Regions from separate parts of the Homo sapiens genome. Here regions 2 and 3 are each linked to region 1. Evidence: fine-mapped expression QTL. A gene starts in region 1. Each other region holds a variant in brackets. All regions are shown on one strand. Distances are between the middles of the regions.

Region 1 (10,234 bases):
GTACTCATAGTGCACACCGGGGTTGGGCTCCTGGCTGATGAGCTGTCACGGGAGAGTCCTTGTTGGGGTCTGCTGCTGGGGAGCACTCCCACACCCTCCGCAGCCTCACAGCCCCCTGCCAGCCTCAAGCCCAGAGCCACTCAACCCCCCATGTACAGAGCTTGGCAGCCTCTTGGGGACCACGAGCTGCCCACTCGCCCTCTCTCCCCACACCCCCATTTACCTCGATGACCAGGGGCTCCGAGGTGGGGCCCCGGGCATGGAGTCGCTCAGGGGCCAGGTCCCCCTCAGCACCCCGCTCGTAATGCAGGATGGTGCTGGCTGCTGGCAGGGCCCGGGCCGCCTCGATGGTCCAGTGCCCATTGAGGTAGTATTCCCCACGAACATTCTTCACAGCTGCGCAGAGGAGACCGCCTCAGTCAGCCAGAGGGAGCAGTGCCGCACCTCCCCCTGCAGCCCCAGACCTGCCTAGGACCTAACCCTAGGCTCTCACCCAGGAAGTTCCTGCTGGCAGCAGCCTCGTCGATGAGGATGCTGGTGGCACCCATGGGAACTATGAGGATCTGGTTGTAGCCTGGGGGCAGAGACGCAGGTGCTGGGTGTGCTGGGCTATCCCTCTCCCGGCACCACTCAAACAGGACTCCAAGTGCCACACAGCACAGAATGGGGGCAGGGAGGGTACACAAGAGCCAGACAGGGCCGAGCTGCTGGGAAAGGCAACCCTGGCAGAAGAGGCCGCAGTACAAAAGCCAGGGTGGCGGGAAGGCTCAGGGCACCCGGAGCACACTGGGAGTGGGAAGGGATGGGGAGGGCATCCAGGCGGTGGCAGCAGGAGATGGGACTGCACGAGCGGGCACGAGTCCTAACCAAAGGCCACAGGGGGCCTTTCAGATGTGACCTGATATGATCAGAGCCTTCCAGTGCCATGAGGGCCACTTGGCCTGGAGTCTAGGCCAGAGCAGGGACAGGCAAGGAAGGGACAGGCAAGGAAGGGGGCAGGCAACTGCCCCTTGTCGGAACCACCCCCACCTCGGCTGAGGTCATTAGCGTCAAAGGTGCCTGCGACGGGGTAGCAGGTCGTGCCGTCACCCCCACACCGCAGACACTTGTCCTCCTGCTTGGACGAGTCCAGCTCGTGATCACAGCCGACAACCTGTGGGCAGAGATGCGGGAGGCAGGGGAGACGGCATCATGGCCACATCAGGCCTTGGGCCCCGTCGCATCCTAACCCCAGCACCCACGCAGCCCAGGCAGGATAGGGTGGTCGGGAGTGATTCAGCCACCAGCCAGGGGACTGGCCTGTGGCTGACAATCCACTTCTCTGTCTGCTCAGCTCCCATCTCCCCTTCTGGTAATAATGCCCTGTTTTCCTTGAGGGGCCACCTCTCTCCCGCAGAGTTTGAACGGAGCTCCCCAAATGTGGGTTTGGGGAGGTTGGAGTGGTTCAGGGTAAGTCCCAAACCAAGACGAATCAGAGACAACCCCCGGTGGCTAGAACTCCTGGGAATGAGGCCCCCTTTCCCTGGGAATTCCCTTTCTAGGGAGCAGAAGGTCGGAGCAGCTGGCGGCCACCTCCACACCTCCTGGGAAGAATGGGCCAGATCCTGATGCTGGACCCAAGGAGAGGAAAGCCGAGTGGCACCTCATTCATGCGCCTGCGGCTGTCCCTGCTGTTTGTTTTTCTGAAGTCGGTTTTAGCCGGATTTCTGCCACCCAGAGGGTTTCTCTTATTGTAGGGCTAGCGTTCTCCAAGGATGAAGGTGAGGGGCCATAGGGCATCTGTGATGCCTGCAAGGTACCCTAGGAGCTGGGCTTGGTGTCCTGGTAACTTGAGAAGACACCAAGCTCATGGCAGCTACCTGGGCCTATGGGTGATGGACAGGGAAACACCCGCACTGAGCCCCCAGGCAGCCCGGAGGCAGGGAGGGGCTGGGGCACCACTCACCCGGCAGCTGCCATCCACACAGACATCCCTCTTGCCAGGCTCGCAGGGCGTCCCATCAACCACAGCCTCCCTGTGCTTGTAGTAGAAGTTCTCCCCCTTGGGAATGCAGTTCAGTTCACACTTGTTTGGGGCTGGGGTGGGCAGGAAGGCAAGACTGAGATCCTGAGGTTGATGATGCCCCTCCCCAAGACCCAAGGCTTACCCTAGCAACAGGAAAGCATGGGTCAGAAAGCCCTGCAGCAGGCCCCGCAGAGCACAGATCCCCGCCCCATCCCCAGGAGAAGGGACCGTCTCCATGAATCTGTTGCACCTCTAAGGATCAAGTCGAAGAAAAATCCCAGAATCAGGAAAAAGTGAAACACTTAAAGAAGTCTACCTCAGCATTATTTACCACAGCTGAGGTGGTTACAACAGGCTACTTTTTTTTTTTTTTTTTTTTTGAGGTGGAGTCTCGCTCTTGTTGCCCAGGCTGGAGTGCAGTGGCACGATCTCGACTCACTGCAACCTCCGCCTCCCTAGTTTAAGCAATTCTCCTGCCTCAGCCCCCCTAGTAGCCGGGACTACAGGCACGCGCCACCACACCCGGCTAAGTTTTGTACTTTTAGTAGAGATGGGGTTTCACCATGTTGGGCAGGCTGGTCTCGAACTCCTGACCTCAGGTGATCCACCTGCCTCAGCCTCCCAAAGTGCTGGGATTACAGGTGTAAACCACTGTGCATGGCCATAACAGGCTACTCTTTAAATAAATTATCAATGGAATATTACACATGCTGACTATGCAGTTACAAATGATGATTGTGAAGACTATATGGTGTGGGAAGATGCTTAAAACACAGAATGCAAAATGGTGATTACTATGCAATAATTACAAATATGTAAGCATATATGGAGAGAATAATGTGAAAGGGGCTAAAATGAAATGCTAACAGTGATCTTGTGAAAGGGGCAGGATGAGGATAACTTTTTTCTGGTTTTAATGTTTTTCAGATGGGATCTCACTCTGTCTCCCAGGCTGGAATGCAGAGGCACGATCAAAGCTCACAGCAGCCTCTACCTCCGAGACTCAAGTGGTCCTCCAGCCTCAGTCTCTCGAATAGTTGGGACTATAGGCACATGCCATCATACCCAGCTAATTTTTTTATTTTTTGTAGAGACAGGGTCTCACTACGATACCCAGGCTGGTTTCAAACTCCTGGGCTCAAATGATCCTCCTGCCTCAGCCTTCCAAAGCACCAGGATTACAAGCAGGAGCCACTGTACCTGGCCTGGTTTTAATTTTTTTTTCTTCTTTTGGAGACAAGATCTCACTCTGTCGTCCGGGCTGGAGTGCAGTGGTGTGATCTTGACTCACTGCAGCCTCAACTTCCTGGGCTCAAGTGATCCTCCCACCTCAGCTTCTCGAATAGCTGGGACTACATGGGTGTGCAACCATGCCTAGCTAATCTTTGTATGCCTGGCTAATCTTCGTATTTTTGGTAGAGATGGGGTTTCACACATTGCCCAGGCTTGTCTCAAATTCCTGGACTCAAGTGATCCTCCTGCCTCAGCCTCCCAAAGTGCTGGGATTACGGGCATGAGCCACTGTACCCTACCTTAATTTTTATATTTATCTAAATATATACACATTTTAAAACAACCCAAAAGTACAAACAGGATTATAATCATCTCCATACCATGGAAGGTATCCCTCTACTCTCTTTTTAGACTTTCCCCTGTGTTCCAATTTTTCTATCATGTGACTATAATCAAATTATTTTTGACATGTGTCCACTTCAGGATCCAGGGGGAATTCTGAAAGCTAGAGTCCCACTGGGTCACGCCCACAGCCACAATCCCCACAACACACACACACACACACACACACATAGAGGATATGAGACTCCCACTGGGCCATGCCCACAGCCACAATCCCCACAACACACACAGACACACACACACACACACAGAGGATATGAGACTCCCACTGGGCCATGCCCACAGCCACGATCCCCACAACACACACACGCGCACACACACACACACACACACACACACACACAGAGGATATGAGACTCCCACTGGGCCACACCCACAGCCACAATCCCAACACACACACACACACACACACACACACACACACACACACACACAGAGGATATGAGACTCCCAGTGGGCCATGCCCACAGCCACGGTCCCCACAACACACACACACACACACACACACACACACACACACACACACACACGGAGGATATGAGACTCCCACTGGGCCACGCCCACAGCCACGATCGCCACCACACACACACACACACACACACACACACACACACACACACACGGGATAAGAGACTCCCACTGGGCCACGCCCACTGCCACTATCGGCACAACACACACACACACGCACAGAGGACATGAGACTCCCACTGGGCCATGCCCACAGCCACGATCCCCACAACACACACACACACACACGCACACACACACAGGATAAGAGACTCCCACTGGGCCACACCCACTGCCACGATCGGCACAACACACACACACACGCACAGAGGACATGAGACTCCCACTGCGCCATGCCCACAGCCACGATCCCCACAACACACACACACACATACACAGGATATGAGACTCCCACTGGGCCATGCCCACAGCCACGATCCCCACCACACACACACAGAGAGAATATAAGTGCTCCTTGATCTGGAATCTAGAGTGCCACAGGGTCTCCAGAGGTCATTTGCCGCAAGCAGGGAAAACGAACACTCAGAAGACTTGTCTTGAGGAATCTTCTGATTCATCTAAAATGCTTAATGACATACATGTTGGTGCTTACCTGGGTGTTTTTTCCCTGAACTGTATTTCTCTAAAAATTAATGACTTATACCCTCCTCAGAGGTGCACAGACCATCTCCTCTGGCCCCCAGATCCTTGATAAATGAAGTCTTGGTGTACCAAGCCCCTTCCAGCCCCTCCTGCAGGATGACCGTGGGGCACCATTGCTACCGCTCCCGGGGTTCCCCATCTCCGTCTCTGTGCGACGGGAGGAACGCTTCCCATAGCAGACTGAGCAAAAACAGGGCTCAAAATGGTATAGACACACCATAGCTTCGTTTGAAAATATACATACATAAGGGGAGAAAGGATGGAAAGACCTCAAAATGGCTGCCATGGTGTTGCCACGGGCATGTGCTGGGGGGAGCAGGGGTACTGGTGATTGATTCATTATGGGTTGATCGATGGGGTATTTGACAAATGCTGGCTCTGGCAGCACATATACTAAAATTGGAACGATACAGAGATTAGCACAGCCCCTGCCCCCTTAGCTGGTATGGCATGCAAATTCATGAAGCATTCCATATTTACTTTAAAAATTATTTGGGAGGCTGAGGTGGAAGGATTGATTGAGCTTGGGAGGTACATGCTGCCCAGCTGACATGACACTGCTGCACTCAAGCCTGGGCAAGATCCTGTCTCAAAAAAAAAAAAAAAAGAAAGAAAGAAAAAGGAAAAGAAAAAAAGGAAAGGAAAGGAAGAGAGAAAAAAGAGCAAGCGAGAGAGAACGAGAGAGAAAGAAAAGAAAAAAAGATAAAGAAAAAGAGAGACCTCTTGCTCTCTCTCGAGGGACCTCTGCAGACCCTCTCCTCCCCAAAGGTGGGTCCTGTGGTCTACAAGATTTCCTGTACATTGCGAGCCCCCGCGCCCACCCAAAAAAAAAAAAAAAAAAAAAAAAAAAAATTGGTCGGGTACAGTGGCTCACGCCTGCAATCCCAGCACTCTGGGAGGTCGCTGCCGGCGGATCCCTTGAGCCCAGGAGTTCAAGACCAGCCTGGGCAACACAGTGAGACTGTCTCTAATATATATATATATGACAACGCCTCTATAATACGGCAATAGGAACTGTGGCATCAACGTAGGTATACAAGAGGCCCCGAGAGAGCGAGTCCCGGCCGCGCTCACCGCTGTAGTAGGGCAGCCACCGATACCGCCGCCCCTGGAACTCCGCTCCGTCGAACTCCGCGCACTGCTCGGCCCGGAAGTCCCGGGCGCCGTCGGGGCAGCTCTGCGGGGCGGAGGGGAAGTCGGGATCCAGGAGGGCGGAGTCCGAGGTCCGCCCACCTCCCGCCCCGCCCGAGCCCAGGGAGCCCAGGAGTCTCCCTTGCCTGCCCCATCGGAGCCGCCGGAGGTGGAGTCCGCCCCCCGGACCCCCGAACTCCTGTGCGTGCCCCTCCATGGTGCTCTAGGCTGTGGAGGGCAAGGCCAGTCCCCGGGAGCAGGGTGAGGAAGGGGCCCCCACGCAGCCCTGCTGTGGATTGGCGGGAGGACCCCAGGCTGGGCCAACCCAGCAGCCCGCGGCCAGGAGCGGGCATCCCAATGGGGAAATCGGCCAGGAGGGGCTGGGGAAGCTGGTGCCTTCGCCCGCGCCCCGTGAGCTTTACCTCCGTGCGACAAGAGCGGTGGCTCCGGGCGGGGCCCACGCAGCTGGAGCCTCCATCTCTCCTGCGGGACCAGAGCACCGGGAAGACCTGACCGAGACCCAACGTCCCTGCCCCCGTTCTGGGGCTCTCTGCAGGCCCCAACTTCTGCGGGACTCTCCAGTGGGAGCAGCAAGGTGAGAGGGTGTCCCCCGACCCCACCCCGTAAATCCCCCAGGTGGGAGTGAGCGACCCATGTTGGTACTCCAGAGAAGCGGGACTCAGAGCCCTACCCACCCTATAGTTTGGATTTAAGGCGGGACCACTCCACTGCATCTTAGGCAGATTCCCAGAGAAGACCCGAGGTGCATGAGATATAATACCCACCCGCTTGGCACAGCCATCCTGCGATCTAAGCAGGACATCAGTATAAGGCTCTTAGGATCATTCCTGGTCTCTCATTCCTCCTCACATAGGGTTCTCAGGAACAACCCCTATACAAACCGGGACAGAGGCACCTCACTACTCCTTCTGTGCCCCACCTTCTCCACTGACCCTGCCGGAGTGCAGCACACACAGCAAGCATTTAATAAATCGCTTGAAGTGGGGAACATCTGTACTCGGTAAAGAAACCACAGGAATTGGGAACTGCCGGTTGAAGATTATTTACCAGTTCCAGCAAAATTGACTGCACCTGCCATACTGCAGGCCGGTGCAGCATCAGGAGCTGGAGACCAGGGGCAACAGGCAGCACGCGTGCTCCAGCTCAGAGTGGAAGGCCCTGGGAAATGGTTTGATTTCCTGCGCTGAACTGATGCTGCTTCCAGAATGAATCTGCTCCTTGGTGGGTTCTGCTGATGTGGCCAGTGCTAGCCTAGGCCACGACCACCTAGCCCACCACCCAGAAGGCAGCATCCCCTGCTCCTGCTTTAACAAGCTGGCCCATTTTCATCTCTCCTACCTCTGGGAGTAGCAGGGGCGCTCCCGGAAGCTGACACCCCCTCCACAGGTCCGGCTGCAGGGGCTCCACTGGCTCCAGGGTCCCCAGGTGTCACTCTGCCGCCTCACCTTGGGAGCCTGCAGAAGACAGGACCATGCATCAGCATTGCCCACTCACAGCCTGAGCCCAGAGGCCCCTCCAAAGATGCTCTGCCTAAAACCCTCCCCTACCCATCAAGGAGTCTGGGATTCTCCCTTCCAGGGCCCACCTTTAGGACTCAGCAACACTGCCGGGCACCCCAAAACATATTCCTTTTCAGAATTAGCCTGCTTTCCTCATAAGGAGCTGAGAGCCAGGCCTGGAGGGCGGGAGCAGGAGCAGCTGGGAAGAGTTTGGAGTTTCAGGGGCCACTGGAGGGGAGGGACCCTACAGCCAGGGGCAGTTTGAGGGTCCAGGCATTTGTAGGTTAACCGTGATGTAGGGGAGGGGGGCCTAAAAGAAAATAAAGGGAAGCAACGTGGGGGGATCCTGCTAATCTGGCCGAGACTCCCAGGAGTACCCCAATATTCATCCCCTCCTTCTCCCATTGTGAGAGAATGCTTGAAAACTTGACTCAGCTGGGTACCTGGCTGCCCAAAATTTAAAAAAAAAATACATTTCCTGGACTGCCTGCAGCTAACTGTGGCTACATCACTTAGTTCTCATCAGTGAGATGTAAATACAAGTGTTGGGCAGCTGCCGCAAATAATCTCCTCAAGAGAGAGCCTGCGTGAGCCTTTGTCCTTTTCTCCTTCCTCCTGTACTCTTTCAGGCTGTCTGGGAAGCAGATGTGATGGCTGGAGTTGGAGCAGCCTTTTAGACTGTGAGGTAACTTGGAAATAGAGGCTTCAAACAGTGAAGCAAAGATAGAGGGACTCTAGAGCCTGGAGGATTTTGTGCAACAGAATAGCCCCAGACTTCTGACCCCTGGGTGTTTATATGAGAGAGGAATCATGTCTGTCTTATTGAAGAACTGTTATTTGGGACTCTACACAGGATTATAATCCTAGCAGGTACACTTTCCCACCAGAAAGATTGGACCCCTTGCAGCTGGCATCAGGAATCCACATGCCACACACACATTATCTCATTTCATCCTCACAACAACCCGACAGACCCCATTGCATGAATAAGAAAAGTGAGGCAGAGAGAGGAAACCACAGGGGAAGAAGTGGGCACAGTAGCCGGCCAGCCTCACTGCAGTCCTCTGCTCCCCTGCCGAGGCTGTGCCCCCACCCACCTGGGGGAATCAAATGAGACACTAGATGATTCCCTACAGGGTTGGACAGGGATTAGATGTAACTTCACAATTTTCCCAGGAGGCATATGGTGTACATGCAAACATTTGCTGGAAGGGGACTTTCTTTTAGGGTATCACCACTTAAGACTCAAGGAAAAATACCATTCCCACTTTTCAGAGAAAGAGCTCAATGGTCACACAGAAAAGCAGCCGGGCACGGTGGCTCATGCCTGTAATCCCAGCACTTTGAGAGGCCAAGGCAGGCAGATCACCTGAGGTCAGGAGTTCGAGACCAGCCTACCCAACATGGCGAAACCCCGTCTCTACTAAAACTACAAAAAATTAGCCAGGCGTGGCGGCGGGTGCCCGTAATCCCAGCTAGTCGGGAGGCTGAGGCAGGAGAATTGCTTGAACCCGGGAGGTGGAGGTTGCAGTGAGCCGAGATTGCATCACTGCACTCCAGCCTGGGCGACAGAGTGAGACTCCATCTCAAAAAAAGAAAAGAAAAGCAGGCTCTTGCTTTCATGGTGACCCCTGAGCAGCTTCGCTGAATCTCAGGTGAGGAAGGACGTTTACTCATCTCTAACATCCCTGGTGCCAAACATCTAGTTATCCTTGTCTTATAACAAAACCCAGAACACTGAAGCAGAACAAACCACGCACAAACCACGCTAAGCCTGCCGAACCACACACAACCAAGAAGGAAGGGCTTGCCAGATGAGAGGTCTTAGCTTTCACTTTGTAAAATATCTACTCCTTCAAGTCTAACTTGGACAAAAATCTCTAAGCTTTCGAAACCACTGAGCCAAAATATCAAAGTTTTCTCTGAATGAAAGTTAAACTGAAATTTACTTGGATCAAGTTTCTATTTCACAAGGAAGACACTGAGTGTTGAGCGTGAAGGGTGACTTTCCAGAGACAGCCTGCAGCCCCAGCTGGGATTCTGGCACCCGCCCCCCCCACACACAGCCTCATCCCACATTTTAAGTATTCAGGAGAGGTCTTCAGGGGTGGCTGCTTTCTTAGCTGCTGGGTTGGGCCTGGTTGTCAATTACCCTCTGACTAAGGCCTGTTTGGATGTCTGTCTTGGCTCCTTGGCACAGCAGCCAGCAAAATCCACCCTTCCCTGGAGCTGGGCTGGGTGTACTGGTGTGTGGCCAAGGGGTACCCCTGCCATGGAGCCACAGCCTGGCCATCAGGATAAGGCAGGGGCAGGACTGGCCTGAACAAGGGCCCCCTAAGGGACATGCTGTTTCCAGAATGCCCTCTTGCCTCCTGTGCCCAGCACCTGTAAGGCAGGTGTCCACTAGCCAGGAGCCCTAGTCCGTCCCATCCTAGAGCCGTGCTCTGTCCACACACTCCACACTGTCTCTCCAAGGAAGGAAAGCACCTTCAGCCACAGGCAGCATGAGCACACTCTTGCTCTGTAATTACCCAAACCGTGAACTGCCCGACATGGCGTGAAGCCGGAATGAGCTGATACAGCCAGCCTCACCTGGGGCCTGCCCTCACCTGTCTCATGCTGCGCTAGGCGCCCCACCCATGCCTCCTTCAACTCCCACCTGGAGCCACTCAGGGGTCCCCTTTCCTGCTGCACTGTTTCCAGGGGAATCAACTGCCCAATGTGCACGTGTGTAAGAGAGAGACAGAACACATGCACACCCGTGTGCAGACGG
Region 2 (10,234 bases), 170 kb after region 1:
CACAGGTTAGTTAAAGTGATTTCAGCAAATAAGGAAAAAAATGACATACCTTGAAGCTTTCCGGAAGCACCTTGTACTCTCTTCCAGCTCAAAACCAAACCACATTTCTTAAAAAGAAAACAAAACAAACAGATTGCTACCATTTAACAAAATAATTTTTAATGTAACTAAAAGCAAAATTATATTTCTACTAGGGATAAAAAACATAAAATAAAAAACCAGCAACTACATTTGCGAAAATTTTTGCAATTCCCACAAACTTATCACATGAAAGAAATGAACAACAAATCATTTAAAGAAAAATATAAATTCTTACTGATTCTTCATTTGCAGAACATTGTTTACCTTTTATTAAAAGTTTCGCATCACTACTTATCCTAACAAAATAAACACGTAAACCTAAATGCCTAAAATTAGAATGGTTAAAACAAACTATAATAAATTTAAGTAAATATTATGAATCTATAAAGAAATGTTTTGAAACAATATGTATGTATTTATAAAGGATTTTTTTTTCTTTTGAGACGGAGTCTCGCTCTGTCACCCAGGCTGGAGTGCAGTGGCGTGATCTTGGGTCACTGCAACCTCTGCCTCCCAGATTCAAGCGATTCTTCTGCCTCAGCCTCCTAAGTAGCTGGGACTACATGCAGGCACCACCACGCCTGGATAATTGTTTTTTGTTTTTTTTTTTTTATTTATTTTTAGTAGAGACGGGGTTTCACCATATTAGCCAGGCTGGTCTTGAACTCCTGACCTCGTGATCTGCCCGCCTCAGCCTCCCAAAGTGCTGGGATTACAGGCACGAGCCACTGCGCCCAGCCATCCCATTAACATGGGAAAACGCTTGATACGGTATGCAAAAATAACTTGGGAAAAGAAAATGCAGATACACAGCAAGACTCTAACTATAAACAAAAACAGCTTTCTGTAAAAATAAAGAGAAATATTCCAAAATGTGAAGGAGGGCAGGTTATCTGAACGGTAGGACACTATTATACTTTAAAAATAAAAGCAGCGAGGTGTAGCTCACGTCTATAATCCCAACACTTTGGGAGGCTGATGTGGAAGGATTGCTTGAGCCCAGGAGTTCAAGACCAGCCTGGGCAACATAGGGAGACACTGTCTCTACAAAAACAAAAAAATTAGGCGGGCGTGGTGGCACACACCAGTGGTCCCAGCTACTCAGGAGGATGAGACGGATGGATGGCTAGAGCCCAGGAAATCGAGGCTGCAGTGAGCTGTAATCATGCCACTATGCTCCAGTCTGAGCAACAGAATGAGACTGTCTCAAAAAAGAAAAATAAAATAAAGTTCCATCCAGTTAAAAAAAAGACAGAAGGAGGAGGGTGTAGGTGAGAAATCTTCAGAGAACAAGAGAAAACTAATGGAAACTTGAAACATGGCATTAAAAATAAATATTTCAATGTAAGTCTGGAAGGTAAAGTTAAGGACAAATCCCAAGAACCCGTGCAAAATAGTAAGAGATGGAAAATAGGAAATCAAAAACACATAGGTCAAACCTGGAAGCTCAACATCCAAACAGAGTTCCTGAAGAAAGTAAAAAGAATTCTCAAATAGCTCAAAATTTTCTCCTGAAAAAAGGCTCCAGAACGAAATGGCCCACCAAGTAAGTGACCAACACAATGATATAAGAAAAATAAGAAAATCAAATAAACATTCGAAGAATTTCACATAATTAGGAACTAAAACCTCCAATCAGTCAAATCCTCACTAGGAGAGGCATTCCAGGGAAAAACAGTTCACACACAAAGAGCATTCAGAATGATGCGGGACTTCTGAAAACCATCATTAGATGCTATAACACGATAAGGCAGCACCTTCAATGTGAGGAAGATAAGCTTCATCACCGAATTCTATATCCCGGTAAACTACTGACCACATGAAATAAAAAGCACTTCAGATTTAGATTCAGAAAAGTTACCAACCACATACCCATATATACCATGTACATCATATACAGAGGATGTATCATCCCAATATAACAGGAACTACTATGTGTCGGCACAAGCAAGATATAGGATCCAAACCACCCAACACAGAACAGCAATAAGGGGAATACTAGAAAAGACAGAAAAAAATCCAAGGATAAAAGTAGACTTAGAGGAACCAGAACACATGAGACGAACAAAGGGACCTGACAGGAGGAGCTCTAGAAAAGAAGGGAAAAGAATCCCCACACTTTGGGAAGCCAAGGTGGGTGGATCACTTGAGGTCAAAAGTTCGAGACCAGTCTGGCCAACATGGTAAAACCCCATCTCTACTAAAAATACAAAAATTAGCCGGACGTGGTGGCGGGTGCCTGAAATCCCAGCTACTTGGGAGGCTGAGGCAGAAGAATCACTGACCCGGGAGGCGGAGGTTGCAGTGAGCTGAGATCGTGCCACTGCACTCCAGCCTGGGCAACAGAGCGAGACTCTGTCTCAAAGATAAAAAATAAAAAATTAAAATAAGAAAATGGACTAGGCAGTGGCTCACGCATGTAATCCCAGCACTTTGGGAGGCTGAGGCAGGGAGATCACTGGAGGTCAGGAGTACCAGACCAGCCTGGCAAACCTGGTGAAACCCCGTCTCTACTGAAAATACAAAAATTAGCCAGGTGTGGTAGCAGGCATCCATAATCCCAGCTACTCGGGAGGCTAAGGCAGGAGAATTGCTTGAACCCCGGATGGCGAGGTTGCAGTGAGCTGAGATCACGCCACTGCACTCCAGCCTGGATAACAGAGTGAGACTCCATCTCAAATAAAAAAAAAAAAAAAGAAAGAAAGAAAACAAACCAAAGAAAGAAAATACAATCATAGCACATAACCTAGTTCTGCTAAAACTATTTACATAATAATACTTATTATCAAGTTCGCCATCTTGTAACACCTGTAAGGAAGTAGGGAAGGGAGACTGAGGCCTTTAACAGTTTAGGCCTCAAGCTACCATAACATGTCAACAGATAATATCAAAATTATGAAGAACAGTAAAAAGGCATATTGAAATAGGAATAAGGTATTTCACAACACAATGTAAAATTCTAAATAAACACCAATTGTTAAAAAAGATGTGTAAGAGGGCCGGGCGCGGTGGCTCACGCCTGTAATCCCAGCACTTTGGGAGGCCAAAGCGGGCAGATCACGAGGTCAGGAGATCGAGACCATCCTGGCTAACATGGTGAAACCTTGTCTCTACTAAAAATACAAAAAATTAGCCGGGCATGGTGGCGGGCGCCTGTAGTCCCAGCTACTTGGGAAGCTGAGGCAGGAGAATGTCATGAACCCAGGAGGCGGAGCTTGCAGTGAGCCAAGATGGTGCCACTGCACTACAGCCTGGGCGACAGAGCAAGACTCCATCTCAAAAAAAAAAAAAAAAAAAAAAAAAAAAGATGTGTAAGAATAGAAACTCGGACATGACACTGCTGCAGTAAATATAAATAAATTGGTGTGGAATTATCTTGTAAAGCTGCAGATAAGCATGCCCTAAGACTCAGAAACGGCACTTCTATGAGAATTTGTGATGAGAATCTTTTCACATACACCTAGGGAGAAAACATTAGCAGTAATAACATAGCAAAACAGAGACTTCCAGAAGCAGACAGGAGCAAACACATTTCTATACTCCAGTACCTTCTGACTTTCCTGAATTCCATTAGAGCAGAGTAAGTGCTAGTTCTCTGCAGACCTCAGATTAGGCCTTGTGGCTACAGTGAAAAGAAGCCCAGGAGAAAACTCAAGAATAAAAATGGAGTCAGGCTTCAGACTGAAATTACCAAAAATCCCATGGAAGTAATAGAAGAAAACAAAACTGAGAAACCCAAAACATCCTCAAACCAGTTAATTAAAACTTACAGAGTGCCCAGGAGATCCAGTCTTCTAAAAGAACAGGAATTTCTTAAATATGAATAGTTGAGGAACAAGAATCATGAATGATGTAAAGTAATTGCCCAGCATCTCAGAGGGGCATAAGGAGAGCAGGCAACAATATTTCCAGAGGATGGCAAGATTGCAGGACTCATACTGAACTACTCATGAGGTGAACCACAGGTTGAGATAACCCTGGCCCTGTCCTTACAGAGAACCTACACAAGATTCTGGGATACAGACGAAGAATGACATCTTTGCAGATCCTCTCAGTGCAGAATATAGTCATTCTTCCAAACTCCTTTTTTTGTGTGTGAGACAAAGTCTAACATTGTCACCCAGGCTGGAGTGCAGTGGCGCCATCTCAACTCACTGCAACCTCCGCCTCCCAGGTTCAAATGATTCTCCTGCCTCAGCCTCCCGCGTAGTTGGGATTGCAGGCACCGACAACCACGCCTGGTTAATTTTTGTATTTTTAGTAGAGATGGGGTTTCACCATGTTGATCAGGCTGGTCTCAAACTCCTGACCTCAAGTGATCCACTCACCTTGGCCCCGCAAAGTGCCGGGATTACAGGTGTGAGACACCGCACCTGGCCTTATTTTATTATACAATCATTCAGCATTATTTCACTTAACAATGTACATGTATCATCAAGATAAAATCTTAAAAAGGTAAAAAAAGTGAATCAACAAGCTTACCAAATTTAAACAACTTATTACTATTCAAGCTCAGAATAAAACTTTAAAAGGAATCAGTCAATCATCATTGGATGCTAAAATCATTGTTTAACATCATTGGGGAAAAGGACTCACAGTCTCAAAATATTAACCCTAGCCAGGTGTGGTGGCCCACGCGTGTAATCTCAACACTTTGGAAAGCCAACGCAGGCGGTTTGCTTGAGGCCAGGAGTTCAAGACAAGTCTGGATAACATGATGAAACCTTGTCTCTAAAAAAACACAAAAATGAGCCAGGTGTCATGGCACGCGCCTGTAATCCCAGCTACTAGGGAGGCTGAGGCATGAGAATCACTTAAATACAGGAGGCAGAGTTTGCAGTGAGCCAAGATGTCACCACTTCATTCAGCCTGTGTGACAGAGCAAATCTGTCTCAAAAGTAAATAAAAATCTTTCATTGGATCATGGATGAAAAATAAAACAACTATTAATATTATGGCCATTACTGGGAAAATTAAATATGAACTACATGTGCATTAGTTAACAATATTATATCAATTTTATATATTTTTTTGTTTTAGAGACTCTCTTGCTCGGGCTGGAGTGCAATTACAAGATCATAGCTCACTGCAGCCTTCAACTCCTAGACTCAAGCAATTCTCCCACCTCGGATTCTGAACAGCTAGGACTACAGGCGTGCATCACCACACCTGGCTTTTTTTTTATTTTTATTTTTTAATCCCTGTCATTATTTTTTTGAGATGGAGTCTCGCTCTGTCGCCCAGGGTGGAGTGCAGTAGCGCGACCTCAGCTCACTGCAGCCTCCATCTCACGGGTTCAAGGGATTCTCCTGCTTCAGCCACCCGAGTAGCTGAGATTACAGGCACACGCCACCACGCCTGGCTAATTTTTGTATTTTTTGTAGAGACAGGGTCTCACCATGTTGGTCAGGCTGGTCTCGAACTCCTGACCACAAATGATCTGCCCACCTCGGCCTCCTGAAGTGCTGGGATTACAGGCATGAGCCACTGCATCTGGCCCTATTATTTTTTAATTTTTTGTAAAGATGTGTCTCGATATGTTGCCCAGGCTGGTCTCGAACTCCTAGCTTAAGAGATCCTCCTGCCTCAGCCTTGCAAAGGACTAGGATGACAAC[C/T]ACAGGCAAAAGCCACTGCACCCGGCCAAATTTCATGTGTGATAGTGGCATTGTGATTATGTCGCAGAATGTCCTTGCTCTTAGGAGATAAATGAAGGATTCACAGGTGAAATGTTATGCCACAATTTACTTTCAAATTATCCAAGAAAAAAGTGTGTGTGGTACACATGTGTACATAAAATATCTAAACATGTTCATTGGTGAATCTAGGAAAAGAATACAAACGTGTTCACTGTACTTTTTCACCTTTGCTGCAGGACTGAAATTTTTTAAAATAAAAAGCAATCACTGAAAGTCTTCTTTCTGCTTAAGTTTGAAATGTAGAATGATAAAAAAATTTTTAATGAAAAATAAACAGTTTAACTTACAGCTAAGAGTTGTCTTATAAGCATGTCTGAAGCTTTCTCGGAAATGTTGCCAACAAAAACAGTGGTAGTAGGACCACAATTTTCATCATTTTCTTTAGCCTTTAAGCCTGGATGATCCTTTCTTGCGCCCAAATGCTTTCCAACCATAGACACAGTGGGTACTAAGACCTAAGGTGAAGAAACAAAATAAAAATTGATCCAGCAATTAAATTTCCTACCACAATTAACATTAGGCTAAAAACATCAGGATTAAATAAATATATATAGCACATTATTTAAGCTCTGCATGCTTGTATACTTCTAAAGCTCCTAAAGTGCATAGCACATTTCATTAATGCAAACTTATTTGTGACAAGTAAACTTCTACTACTAGATTACCTTTCTTCTTAAAAAAGAAACAAAAATAACCAAGAAAACTTTGTTATGTTTAAGACATAATTTTTACTTTTATTTTCTGAAACGGAATTTCGCTCTGTCGCCCAGGCTGGAGTGCAGTGGCATAATCTCGGCTCACTGCAACCTCCGCCTCCTGGGTTCAAGGGACTCTCCTGCCTCGGCCTCCCGAGTAGCTGAGATTACAGGCGCGCACCACCAAGCCTAGATAATTTTTTGTATTTTTAGTAGACACAGGGTTTCACCATGTTGGCCAGGCTAGTCTTGAACTCCTGGCCTCAGGTGATCCTGGCCTATGTCTTGAACATTTAAAATTTATGCCTTAGGCCATATACCTTAGGAAGGTAGGAGGAAACATGTAAAAGGTAGTCCACACAAATTTCATTTCAAAATTTTAATTTTTACAAGGATTCCTATGTTCTTTTAAGAGATCAGACATGTCACATCCTTCTCCCATCTCCCAGGACCAAGATGAGAAGGCAATGAAGAGCCAAAGTCCTAAATTTGTAATAACAAGTATATGAAGAGTCTAGATAGTAACAGGAAAATCATAGAATTATCTACTTAGGGAGCACATTGCAAGGGCAACTGCATATATGCACACCTAAGTGAAAATGATACTTATTCAAATAAATGATATGCTCTACAGGGGTGCTGTCATTCTGTCCTTGTTATTCTTTTAAATACTCATAATTTATCTAAGTTTATCATGCTGTTCAGCTTAAAAGCACTAGCACTACCATAACTCATGATTCCTCCTTTAAGTTATACTTACAGTTGGAGCAGGAGCCATAATGCTCATTGGTACAGGAATCATTGGGGTCCCTAAGAAAAGAAAAACCACACTGATTTTACATGACTGCATTCTCTATCAACAACATGCCACACAATTAAGTATCCTTACTCATAATTAACATAAGTGGAAATATAAGACAAATGAAAGTGAAATACTGATAAATACTATCTTATTTTCAAAAGGAATGTGGTATCAGGTTGGTCCATATAAACTTACAAAAAAGACTATCCTGAAAACAAAATGGCCACCTCAATATGCTTTTGACTTAAAGAGCATAAAATCCTGGATAGTTATCCATTCGGGTTCATGTGGTTCGGTGATCCTCAAAACCAATGCCTTTCACAAATACAGACTGACTTATAGGTGAACAATGCTATTAAAGAATCCTTTAAAAGTAAAAACAGCTGGGCACGGTGGCTCACGCCTGTAATTCCAGCTCTTAGGGAGGCACAGGCAGGAGGACAGATTGAGCCCAGGAGATCGAGATCTGCCTGGGCAAAATAGTGAGACCCCGTTCTCCACAAAAAGGAAAAAAAAAAAAGACCAAAAAAAAGGTAAAACACGTCGTGCAACATGGTGATACAGTTAGTAAGTGTACTATATTCTTGAAAATAACTAAGAGAAAATCTCCACTTAAAATCTAGGGTGTTCTCACAACAACAAAAAATAAGTATGTAAAGTAATACACCAAGTGTTAATTAGCTCAATTTAGTCATTCCACAACATATGTTATTTCAAAACGTTGTGCATGATAAACATATAAAATTTTGTCAAATAAAGTAAAAACAAATCTTTTGACAGTTATTTTAAGCATGAGATGAGAAATTTATGTGTAAATCTAAGAAGAATCTTGTTATTCCTGGCTCTTTCGCAGAAAATAAAAATCATGGGCCGGGCGCAGTGGCTCACGCCTGTAATGCCAGCACTTTGGGAGGCAAAGATGGGTAAATCACCTGAGGTCAGGAGTTTGAGACTAACCTGACCAACATGGAGAAGCCCTGTTTCTACTAAAAATACAAAAATTAGCCAGGCGTAGTGGTGCGTGCCTGTAATCCCAGCTACTCGGGAGGCTGAGGCAGAATTGCTTGAACCCGGGAGGCAGAGGTTGCAGTGAGCCGAGATCACACCATTGCACTCCAGCCTGGGGGACAGGTGCAAGACTCTGTACCAAAAAAATAAATAAATAAATAAAATCATGCTTGTAGTTACAGCTATTCTGGAAGCTGAGGCACAAGGATCCCTGAGCCCAGGAGTTCAAGGCTGCGGTGTGCTAGCATTGTGCCTGTGTATAACCACTGTACTCTAGCCTAGGAAACATAGCAAAACTCCATTTCTTTATTTAAAAAAAAAAAAAAAGGCAGGGAGTGAGGGGACACGGTAGCTCACACCCATAATCCAAACACTTTGGGAGGCCAAGACAGGCACATCGCTTGAGCCAACACGGCAAAACCCCATCTCTACAGAAAATACAAAAATTAGCCGAGCATGGTGGCACACACTCATAATCCCAGTTATTAGGGAGACTGAATCAGGAGAATCACTTGAACCCAGGAGGCAGAGACTGCAGTGAGCTGTAATGGCACCACTGCACTCCAGCGACAGAGTGAGACTCTCTCAAAAAAAGCAAAACAAACAAAAAAAAAAATCAAAGAAATTTAAAATCTTTTCTATAAACCCAATCTACTGGTAAGGAAATTAAAGCACAGATTCTCCATAACCATCTTTTCTGATTCTAAACAAGCAATTAAGCTTACTGCCACCCCCCACCTCCCCACAAGACAGGGTCTTTCTTCCCTATGTTGTCCAGGCTGATCTTGAACTCCTGGGTTCAAGAAATCCTCCTGCCCTCAGCCTCCCAAAGTGATGGGATTACAGGTATGAGCCACCATGCCCAGCCTATAACTTCTAGAACACTCGGGCTTTGCATCATGGTTATGGTAAGGCCCATCGAAAAACGGATCTGAGTCAGTCATGGTGGCACACATCTATAGTCTCAGCTACTCAGTAGGCTGAGGCAGGAGGATCAGTTGAGTCCAGGAGATAGAGGCCACATTAAGTTATGGTTATGCCACTGTACCCCCAGCCTGGGAGACAAAGAGAGATCCTGTCTCAAAAAAATTAATAAATTAAAAATTAAAACCCAGAACTGCATTATGAGCCTATAAATATATGAAGAAAATCAGGATATACGGACCAAAGAGAAAACTGAAGCCCAAATGAAAGTTGTTCAAAACACTTTCCTTCTATAACTATTAATCTGTTTGATGGCTGATAACTAACTTTATTCAGTTTTCTGCAACATTTTCTCAATTTTCTCAATAGAATTTCCTTTCAGCAAAATTCATTTTAAGAAAAAACTTTGTCCAAAGGGCCAGCTAGAGCCTTCCAGTAGAATTTAGTCTATTTATGGTCCATTATAAAACAACTAAGTTACTACTTAAAATCAGTAATTGTTACATGGGATAATAAAGCAGTAGTGTAAACTTTTACATTACTCTTCTGGCAGCAGATGATAACAAATATACATCCATGATTATCTAGAAGCACAGCGTAAAGCAGCTCCACTACAAGCATAATGTCTAAAATAGCTTATTAAAGTACTGCATTCTATTCCATAATATACATGCATAAACAGTTGTTCTGATTTTTTTTTCTTTTTGAGACAAAGTTGCATTCTTGTTGCCCAGGCTGGAGTGCAGTGGCATGATCTCAGCTCACTGCAACCTCTGCTTCCCAGTTTCAAGCGATTCTCCTGCCTCAGCCTCCTGAGTAGCTGGGATTCACGCCTGAGCCACCACGCCCAGCTAATTTTTTGTATTTTTAGCAGAGATGGCATTTTGCCACGTTGGCCAGACTGGTCTCTAACTCCTGAACTCAGGTGATCCACTCACCTTGGCCTCCCAAAGTTCTGAGGTTACAGGCGTGAGCCACTGTGCCCGGCCTGATTTTTTTAAATTATGATTTTCCCCAAATTCTTGAAG
Region 3 (10,234 bases), 160 kb after region 1:
TGAGTTTCATGCCTTGTGCCTCCTTAACAATGTAACTTAGCAGTAACTTTATAAGTTGACCACAAGCATTCTGAAAGCTGTCTCCAATGGATACGTATTCAACAAACATTTTATTTCTTAAATTAATTTGCTCAACAAATTCTTTTTTTTTTTTTGAGGCGGAGTCTTGCTCTGTTGCCCAGGCTGGAATGCAGTGGCGTGATCTCAGCTCACTGCAAGCTCTGGCCTCCCAGTTTCACACCATTCTCCTGCCTTAGCCTCCTGAGTAGCTGGGACCACAGGCTCCCGCCACCACACCCGACTAATTTTTTTGTATTTTTAGTAGAGATGGGGGTTTCACCGTGTTAGCCAGGATGGTCTCGATCTCCTGACCTCATGATCCGCCCGCCTCAGCCTCCCAAAGTGCTGGGATTACAGGCGTGACGACCACACCCATCAACAAATTCTTAAGAGCATACTGTGAGAAAGATGCTGCACTTAGACGGAATAAAATCCAAATTGAAAAACGCTCTCTTCTCCTCAAGCTGTATCACTACAGAGTAACAGATGGGTTATGACACAGATAACTTAAATATAAGGCATTACATGTTATTACAAAACTAACCACTTGGCAGGGCTCGGTGGCTCACGCCTGCAACCCAGCGCTTTGGGAGGCCAAGGTGGGCAGATGACGAGGTCAGGAGTTCGAGACCTGCCTGGCCAGCATGGTGAAACCCCATCTACCAAAAATACAAAAAATTAGCTGGGCATGGTGACATGTGCCTGTAATCTCAGCTATTCAGGAGGCTGAGGCAAGAGAATTGCTTGAACCCAGGAGGTGGAGACTGCAGTGAGCAGAGATCATGCTGCTCCATTCCAGCCTGGGAGACAGAGCGAGACTCTGTCTCCACCCCCATCAAAAACACACACACACACACAGACACACACACACACACACACACACACACACACCTCGCTCCTGTAATCCCAGCATTTTGGGAGGCTGAGGCGGGCGGATCACAAGGTCAGGAGTTCGAGACCAGCCTGACCAACATGGTGAAACCCCGTCTCTACTAAAAAAATACAAAAATTCCCCAGCCGCGTGCAGCGGCTCACTAAGTCAGGAGATGGAGACCATCCTGGCTAACATGGTGAAACCCCGTCTCTACTAAAAACACAAAAAATTAGCCGGGCATGGTCCCAGCTACTTGGGAGGCCGAGGCAGGAGAATGGCTTGAACCCGGGAGGCAGAGATTGCAGTGAGCCAATATCACGCCACTGCACTCCAGCCTGGGCGACAGAGCAAGACTCCGTCTCAAAAGACAAAAAAAATCCTTATAGACCCTAAATTGATTATTGTTTCCACTGTAAACCAAAATTTAAATATCAATATGGCTATTTTACTATTAGAGATAAAGCATTTGGAATTAACTAATTCACATTTTTAGAAGAAAAGTTTATTAACCCAAAAATCTTAACTGATTGCTAATATTTAAAAAAAAAACAATAACAACAACAACAAAAAACCTAGGCCGGATGCAGTGGCTCACACCTATAATCCCAGCACTTTGGGAGGCCGAGGCAGGCAGATCACAAGGTCAGGAGATCGAGACCATCCTGGCTAACACAGTGAAACCCCGTCTCTACCAAAAATACAAAAAAAATTAGCCAGGCGTGGTGGCGGGCACCTGTAGTCCCAGCTACTCGGGAGGCTGAGGCAGGAGAATGGCGTGAACCCGGGAGGCGGAGCTTGCAGTGAGCTGAGATCGCGCCACTGCACTCCAGCCTGGGCGACAGAGTGAGACTCTGTCTCAAGAAAAAAAAAAAAAAAAAACAAAACCTGATCATGGTAGATGATCAGGTTAGAAAGACCACTCCACAGACTGGCAAGTTTCATCTAAAGCTCTATCTCTGGAATATCAACTATACACGATTTTCTGATTTCCTGTTTTTTTCTTATACTTCAGAAACCAGATGGCCGGGTGCGGTGGCTCACACCTATAACCCCAACACTTTGGGAGGCCGAGGCGGGTGGACCACCTGAGGTCCAGAGTTTGAGACCAGCCTAGCCAACATGGCGAAACCCATCTTTACTAAAAATACAAAAAATTAGCCAGGCGTGGTGGCGGGTGCCTGTACTCCCAGCTACTCAAGAGGTTGAGGCAGGAGAATCGCTTGAACCCAGGAGGCGGAGGTTGCAGTGAGCCGAGATTACACCATTGCACTCCAGCCTGGGCGACAAGAGTGAGACTTCGGTGGGCAGAGAGGGAGAAACCAGAAAGCATAATCAGTAATACTGGGAAACAAAAGGTGAAGGATTCAGCCATATAGGAAGCTGACAGATTATCTGTAATGTTTACATGGCCCACCTAGTTGGTTCTTTTCAGAGAAATTAAAATTTCAATAGTAAAGCTAGTAGCTGTGAAGTTAAACAGCTCTGCTGGGCTCATTCTTTGGCACTGAGGTCTAGAATCCAAAGTACGAACCTTTTAAAAAATTTAAGGAAATGCAGAGTTCTTTCTTTTGAGAAAATGTACTCAGCCAGGCTAATTTCCAAAGATGTTCCCCTGAAGCAGCTGTCCTCTATTAAATAGGTTCTTTCCAGAGAATAACTGTTTTTCCAGCACTTGTCAGTGTTCATTCTTGAATATATGGTTAATAACTATGACTTGTGACATACAAGCAGATATATTGTCTCCTATACTATTTTTGCTGGACAGCCAGAAAGCAATAGGACATGAACTAAATTAGCATGGCCACCTCACATGGAATACTTTACTACTAGAGGTCAATAAGAAATGGAAAGAAAAAAAGTTACACCTGCAAATTCTGCAAAATCTAAATTAAAATGTTCAGTCAAGTTGTTTGACAAGACACCTTACACATGCGCAAAATTCTTCTTAAAATTCTGAATCTGGCTGGGCACAGTGGCTCATGCCTGTAAACCCAGCACTTTGGGAGGCCGAAGCAGGAGAACTGCTTGAGCCCAGGAGTTCGACACCAGCCTGGGCAACAACGCGAGACCCCATCTCATAAAAAAAAGAAAATTTTGGGGGGCAGGTGGGAGGGATAGGATTAGGAGATATACCTAATGTTAAATGACGAGTTAATGGGTGCAGCACACCAACATGGCACATGTATATATACGTAACAAACCTGCACGTGGTGAACATGTACCCTAAAACTTAATTAAAAAAAAAAAAAGGCAAGAAAATTTAAAAAAAAATTCTGGATCATGAAAAATATGTTGCTCCCCTAGACAAACTCATGTTTCCTTTTTAGTCAATGAGAAATAAGGAACTAATTGTTTTCTCTTCTGCCTCAGAGGAAAATGCCTAATAAAGCAACACAAAGGGTTTTCAATGTCTCATTCTCCTATCCTCTACTTAACAGCTTTCTAAATTTCTCCAACTAATCAACGACCAAGAATAAAAAACAATCACCATGTCATATTTTTATACTGAAAAATCATGGCGGCAGTAGCCACCCATCTCACCCCCACCATCTTCTCCCCTCCCCCTGCTCCCTCCCTCCAATCTCTCACTCTCCGACTTTCATCTCTCCCTACACCCCCCACCACCCTTAAAAAAAAAATCATGGCAAATCTCTAATCTACTCCACTATATAGTAATATTTGCTTAAGTTATTTGAAAATTTTTTTTTACATCAGATAGAATGCTTTTTTAACCTATATTTGTTGAGTAATATTGACACTTAAGGAAAATATGCCATGTTTATCCTATGACTTCAAGTACCACCGGGCAAGAAGCCAAAGGGCACTCAGAAATACACATATAACAGTTGGAACAATAAATCATATAACTGATATCTGTCAATTGTTTTAATTTTTTATTAAAAATAATTTTTCTGTGTGATTTTATTGCATGTAACTTCGCTTTTTTTTTGAGACAGAGTCTCACTCTGTCACCCAGGCTGGACTGCAGTGGCGCAATCTCAGCTAACTGTAACCTCCGCCTCCTGGGTTTTAAGTGATTTTCCTGTCTCAGCCTCCCAAGTAGCTGGGATTACAGGTGTGCACCACCACATCCGGCTAATTTTTGTATTTTTTTTTTAGTAGAGATGGAGTTCCACCATGTTGGCCAGGCTGGTTTCAAACTCCTGACCTCAGGTGATCCTCCGACCTCGGCCTCCCAAAGTGTTGGGATTACAGGTGTGAGCCACCACATCCAGACACATATTGCTTTTCCTGAAGACCAACAGATCTAAAGTGTGGTTACTCTGGCTAATGTTGATTATACAAAAAATGTAAGCTGGACACAGTGGCTCCTGCCTGTAATCCCAGCACTTTGGAAGGCTGAAGTAGGTGGATCACTTAAGCCCAGGAGTTCAAGACCAGCCTGGACAACACAGTGAAACTTCATCTCAACAAAAAATATAAAACTTAGCCAGTATGGTGGTGCATACCTGTAGTCCCAGCTGAGGCAGAAGGATCACTGGAGCCTGGGAATAGGAGGTTGCAGTGAGCAGAGATCACACCACCCCACACTCGAGCCTGGGTGACAGAGCAACACTCTGTCCCCACCCCAAAAAAAGCAAGCAAGCAAGAAATGTGAAGTCACATAATTGTGCACTTCCTTATTTATAAAAATACGTAGTATAGTGACTTATTTCATTCTCAGAGTTTTTCAGTATAACATTTGCAAATGCTACAAATTAAATGACCTCACAAACTGAAGATTAAACACAAGAAAACAGTGAGTCCTAGCAAATCAGAACACTTTGAAGATACTGAATCCATACTTTCAACTAGTTAGTATACAGTTATCACAAGGCAAACCTGAAAATTCTTATTTCAAACATTTCTGTTTTTTGAGGTTTTAGTGATGTGACAGGCAGTATTACTGATTTGAAATAAAATATAAATAAAATATAATTTCCTTATGAAGCAGGGTGAGGATAGTAAGACTGACAGATAAGCGTCTATTAACAAATGTTAATTCCATCCTTGCTTTAGGCAAGACACTGTCCTAGATGCTGTGGAGGTACAAGATTAAAGAGACACAGCCCACAAACTTATCACCCTTTCTATCTGTAATCAGAGATGGGGGTTGAAAGAGAATATGGGAATGAGATGGGTTACAAGGGGCTGTGAAAGAGAGAGATATATAAACAATATCTACTAAAACAGCTATAAAGATCTGCTTTATATGGGAACAGAGGACTTAATTCTGTCTGACAGAAACTAAGGGCAGGCTGATAAAGTCTGTATGAATCAAGGGACATGTTAATTATAAGTATGGATAGAATTTCAACAGGGAGCTTGGATAGGCAACAAAGACATGAGATGCCAGCAAAGCAAAAGGGAAGACTGTGGAGGTACATGCAGTAGTATGTGCAGGGGAGGGAAGACGGAAGCTAGAAACGTGGACTGGAGTGAGCCTTGAATGTCATCCTAAAAATATGGACTTTATGGCCGGGCACGGTGGCTCAC[G/A]CCTGTAATCCCAGCACTTTGAGAGGCCGAGGTGGGTGGATCACCTGAGGTCAGGAGCTCAAGACCAGCCTGGAAGACATGGAGAAATCCCACCTCTACTAAAAACATAAAAATTAGCTGGGGGTGGTGGCGGGTGCCTAAAATCTCAGCTACTCGGTAGGCCAAAGCAGGAGAATCGCTTGAACCTGGGAGGTGGAGGTTGCAGTGAGCCAAGATTTCGCCACTGCACTCCAGTCTGGGCAACAAAGCGAGACTGCATCAAAAAAAAAGAGGGGGGGTACTTTTTTCTGTAAGAAATCCAAAACCATTAAGGATGGGTCTCACATAATATAAGCAAGAGTTTCATAAAATTATACTTATGTTTTAGAAATACAGGCAATGCTGACCGGGTGGAGTGGCTCACACGTAATCCCAGCACTTTGGGAGGCTGAGGCAGACAGATCACCTAAGGTGAGGAGTTCAAGACCAGCCTCACTTACATAGTGAAAATACAAAAAGTAGCCGAGCCTGGTGGCGGACACCTGTAATCCCAGCTACTTGGGAGGCTGAGGAGGGAGAATCACTTGAACCTGGGAGGTGGAGGTTGCAGTGAGCTAAGGTCGCACCACTGCACTCCAGCCTGGGCAAGAGAGGGAAACTCCATTTCAAACAAACAAACAAACAAAACCCTACATTTGGCCAGGTGTGGTGGCTCACACCTGTAATCCCAGCACTTTGGGAGGCCAAGGAGAACAGATTACCTGAAGTCAGGAGTTCGAGACCAGCCTGGCCAACATGATGAAACCCCATCTCTACTAAAAATACAAAAATTTGCTGAACGTGGTGGTGGATGCCTGTAATCCCAGCTACTCAGGAGGCTGAGGCAGGAGAATCACCTGAACACGGGAGGCAGAGGTTGCAGTGAGCCAAGATCGCACCACTGCACTCTAGCCTGAACGACAGAGAGACTCTGTCTCAAAAAAAACAAAAAACAAATGAACCACATTCATACACAGAAAAATGTCTGGAAGAACATACATCCAAACCGCCTACAGTGTTGCTTATGATGATGGGATTACAGGTGGTATTTAATTGATTATTTATACTTTGCTTCATTTTGTGAGTTTTTTGGGTTTGGTTTTTATTTTTTTTTAACAAAGAACTTGGAGGGAACATGAAAGGTATTTCTTTTTTCTTTTTTGGCAGCAGGGAGACAGAGTTTCACTCTAGTTGCCCAGGCTGGAGTACAATGGCTAGATCCCAGCTCACTGCAACCTCCGCCTCTGCAGTTCAAGCGATTCTCCTGCCTCAGCCTCTGAGTTGCTGGGATTACAGGCACCCACCACAACGCTAGGCTAATTTTTTGTATTTTTAGTAGAGACAGGGTTTCGCCACGTTGGCCAGGCTGGTCTCGAACTCCTGACCTCAGGTGATCTGCCCGCCTCTGCCTCCCAAAGTTCTGGGATTACAGGCGTGAGCCACCGTGCCCAGCAAAAAGCGATTTCTATTTTGAAAGATAATAAAAATTTGACGACAGCGAAAGACTCTTCTGGTTTTGTTTGTGTTGGGGGAAGGCATTAATAAATCTATTTTGGATTTGTTCAGCATGAGATGCCAAAAAGGAACTAAGAAGAGAAATGAAGGAAATATATACTCAAGTTTTAGCTATGTTTCACTTTGCTGAGGAGGTAATAATGTATACATTAAAATACAATATACAACAATGTCCTTTATTTTAGCTTCACTTAGTAGAGCTTGGATAAAGCCCCCAACCTAAGGCAAGTAATCAGACTTTCATTCATTTTAGAGTCGGTGTACTTCTAAAAGAGAGGGAAACTAATAAAAATTGTGTAGGTTGAAATATATTTTGTACTTACTTACAAAGCTGCCTTAATGAATTAGCTCTGTTTGGAATAGTCTGTACCAGTGCTTTCTCTGGCAAGTTAACCTTGTCCAGCCTCCCTTACTACTTTCATCCCAACCTGGAACAAGCAAACCAACAGTCATCCACCCACTATGGGCAGATAAGACTTAAAATAACTACAAACTATAAAATACCCTCCTACATTAAGCCACAAGCACATACATGATGATCTTTTGAAGCCCCATATTAGATTCATTTATAATGAGAAGCACTACACTGAAATAGCACAGTCTGGCCTAGAAAAGATAACACGACAGAAAACATACCCCATTAGAAGCTTTCTTCTTTGCTTTCCATTCATCCAGCTGTGCCTTTGTCTTTGCATCAACTTTAACGAGTAGCTTTTTCTCTCCAATTTGCAGGTCATGTAATAATCTGAGTGCACGGAGGGTAGATTCTGGCTCCTTGTACTCACAGAATCCGAAGGCTAGCAATGGATGAAAACAATTAGTGAAATACCAATTCACTTACAAAAGAAAAAAAATTATGGAAAAGTAGAATCACTAGAGTCCAAATGTTTTAATACAAAGACCACTCAATTCATAATTCCACCCCTGTCCACCAATTCCCTTTGATAACCATTTCACTTTTAGTATCCTCAAACAACCAAAGGGGAAAAAAAGGGAAAAACAGAGAGGAAGAAAAATTCAAATCAGACAAACTGCTACTCATTAGAAGCTCTAATAAAATATTTAGCAGAGTCAATGAAATTCATGATTAAAAGGAGTCAATTGGCCGGGCGCGGTGGCTCATGCCTGTAATCCCAGCACTTTGGGAGGCCGAGGCGGGTGGATCACGAGGTCAGGAGATCGAGACCATTCTGGCCAACACAGTGAAACCCCGTCTCTACTAAAAATACAAAAAATTAGCCGGGCGCGGTGGCGGGCGCCTGTAGTCCCAGCTACTTGGGAGGCTGAGGCAGGAGTATGGCGTGAACCCAGGAGGCGGAGGTTGCAGTGAGCCGAGATAGCGCCACTGCAGTCCGGCCTGGGCGAAAGAGCGAGACTCCGTCTCAAAAAAAAAAAAAAAAAGAAAGGAGTCAATTATTTCATAAATTCACCCTATCTAGACTTCCAAACAGCCACAAGAAAGAACAGACTGCAGGAACACAAACAATGCACTTTTCAATTCTGAGATGTTAAATTACAGAATTTGTATCCTAGTTACCAGTCTATTTTACTTACATCTATTTCCTTTTATAACTAGTCAATCTCACTATTAAGATGACTTTAACAGAAATATTAAAACAAAATTAAATCTAAGAAGAGCAACCAACAAATTGAAAATAAAATCAAATAAATCTAAATATGTATATAATGACAGGAAACAGAAAAAAACTACTGATATTAAAATAGTAAATTTGACATTTCAGTGTGATATACCATAAAGACAAACAGATATGCCCCTCAAAAAAGTACCTTTAGGCCGGGCGCAGTGGCTCATGCCTGTAATCCCAGCACTCTGGGAGGCAGAGGCGGGCAGATCACCTGAGATCAGGAGTTCCAGACCAGCCTGGCCAACATGGTGAAACCCTCTCTCTACTAAAAATACAAAAACTAGCTGGGTGTGGTGGCACATGCCTGTAGTCCCAGCTACTAGGGAGGCTAAGGAAGGAGAATTGCTTGAACCCGGGAGGCAGAAGTTGCAGTAAGCTGAGATTGCCCCACTGCACTCCAGCCTGGGCAACAGACAGAGACCCTGTCTCAAAAAAAAAGAAAAGTAATTTTAAATGATCATATTGCTGATGATAGTGTCAATGTTGTTAGTGTGAAACTGTTATATGTGCAATGCAAGATAAAGCAACTCAGTAATTAATAGTTTATCATCCCCAATGGCCTTGAAACTCGGGGACCTCAGTGTGGGGAAAAAGGAGATACAAATATATGACAAAACAGGCTAAATAAAAACCTTTTAGTCCTGAATCTGAATTAGTATACACTGGAAAAACCTAAAAGCAAACACCAAACCACTGTTTTGTTTTTTTTTTTTTTTAGACGGAGTCTCGCGCTGTCACCAGGCTGGAGTGTAGTGGTGCAATCTCGGCTCACTGCAAACTCTGCCTCCCGGGTTGAAGCGATTCTCCTGCCTCAGCCTCCTGAGTAGCTCAGACTAAAGGAGCGCACCACCACACTCAGCTAATTTCTGTATTTTTAGTAGAGACAGGGTTTCACCATGTTGGCCAGGATGGTCTTGATCTCTTGACCCGCCTGCCTCAGCCTCCCAAAGTGCTGGGATTACAAGCTCGAGCCACCACACCCATCCCAAACCACTGTTAATATGAGTGCACCTAGTGTCCAGATCGTGATCTTCAAAACAATTTCCCCTGGAGAAATGGCTGATTCTAAGTCTGGGGCCGAAAACCTATTATACTAGATGACCTTAGAACAAATTGTCATACCAGATAACAAAGCAGCTGTCAAAGGTGTTCAGGGTCATGTCAAAACCACTGGAGATGTAAAGTGCAGAGACAATTTAAGTTAAGCTTTAATGGTGATAATAACTACAATGAATCCATATTAAATACAATAACACTAAATATGCTTCAATTCCTAAGTTCACAATAATTCAAAAGAAAAAAGAAAATCAGTCACTGCTAGAGAATGCTGAGGATAGCAACTCATTGTTTTAAGAAAGCAAGCCAGTGCATCTATCCTGCCTATTCTGTATTAAATATGCCTCTATGCCAGGCATGGTGGCTCAAGCCTGTAATCCCAGCACTTTGGGAGACTGAGGTGGGCGGATCACCTGAAGTCACGTGTTCAAGACTTGCCTGGCAACCAGGGCAAAATCCCGCCTCTATTAAAAAAACCAAAAAATTAGCCAGGCATGGTGGTGGGCGCCTGTAATCCTGGCTACTCAGGAGGCTGAGGCAAGAGAACCACTTGAACCCAGGAGGCGGA

Evidence for each region. PIP is the estimated chance that this variant, and not a neighbour inherited with it, causes the effect.
Region 2: its variant is fine-mapped to the expression of PAPLN-AS1 in whole blood (INTERVAL, PIP above 0.99).
Region 3: its variant is fine-mapped to the expression of PAPLN-AS1 in whole blood (INTERVAL, PIP 0.96).

What each region holds. Positions count from the first base shown.
Region 1 is chr14:73,241,826-73,252,059 of GRCh38, reverse strand. It overlaps PAPLN-AS1 (PAPLN antisense RNA 1), which reads left to right and starts at 6,059. Exons shown (of 2, transcript NR_135248.1): 1 at 6,059-6,536; 2 at 6,816-8,042. PAPLN (papilin, proteoglycan like sulfated glycoprotein) reads right to left here. Exons shown (of 27, transcript NM_001365906.3): 3 at 7,301-7,416; 4 at 6,364-6,424; 5 at 5,885-5,987; 6 at 1,946-2,076; 7 at 1,030-1,153; 8 at 494-574; 9 at 224-396; 10 at 1-42. It also overlaps the pseudogene RNU6-419P. RefSeq lists silencers at 3,407-3,486, 5,955-6,224 and enhancers at 4,298-4,799, 4,938-5,007.
Region 2 is chr14:73,073,367-73,083,600 of GRCh38, reverse strand. It overlaps RBM25 (RNA binding motif protein 25), which reads right to left. Exons shown (of 19, transcript NM_021239.3): 3 at 7,233-7,282; 4 at 6,065-6,232; 5 at 50-107. Among named protein-coding and RNA genes, the nearest start is that of RBM25-AS1, 19 kb to the right of the region's middle. The variant C/T (reference allele first, on the strand shown) is at 5,697.
Region 3 is chr14:73,085,528-73,095,761 of GRCh38, reverse strand. It overlaps RBM25 (RNA binding motif protein 25), which reads right to left. Exons shown (of 19, transcript NM_021239.3): 6 at 7,601-7,761. Among named protein-coding and RNA genes, the nearest start is that of RBM25-AS1, 31 kb to the right of the region's middle. The variant G/A (reference allele first, on the strand shown) is at 5,432.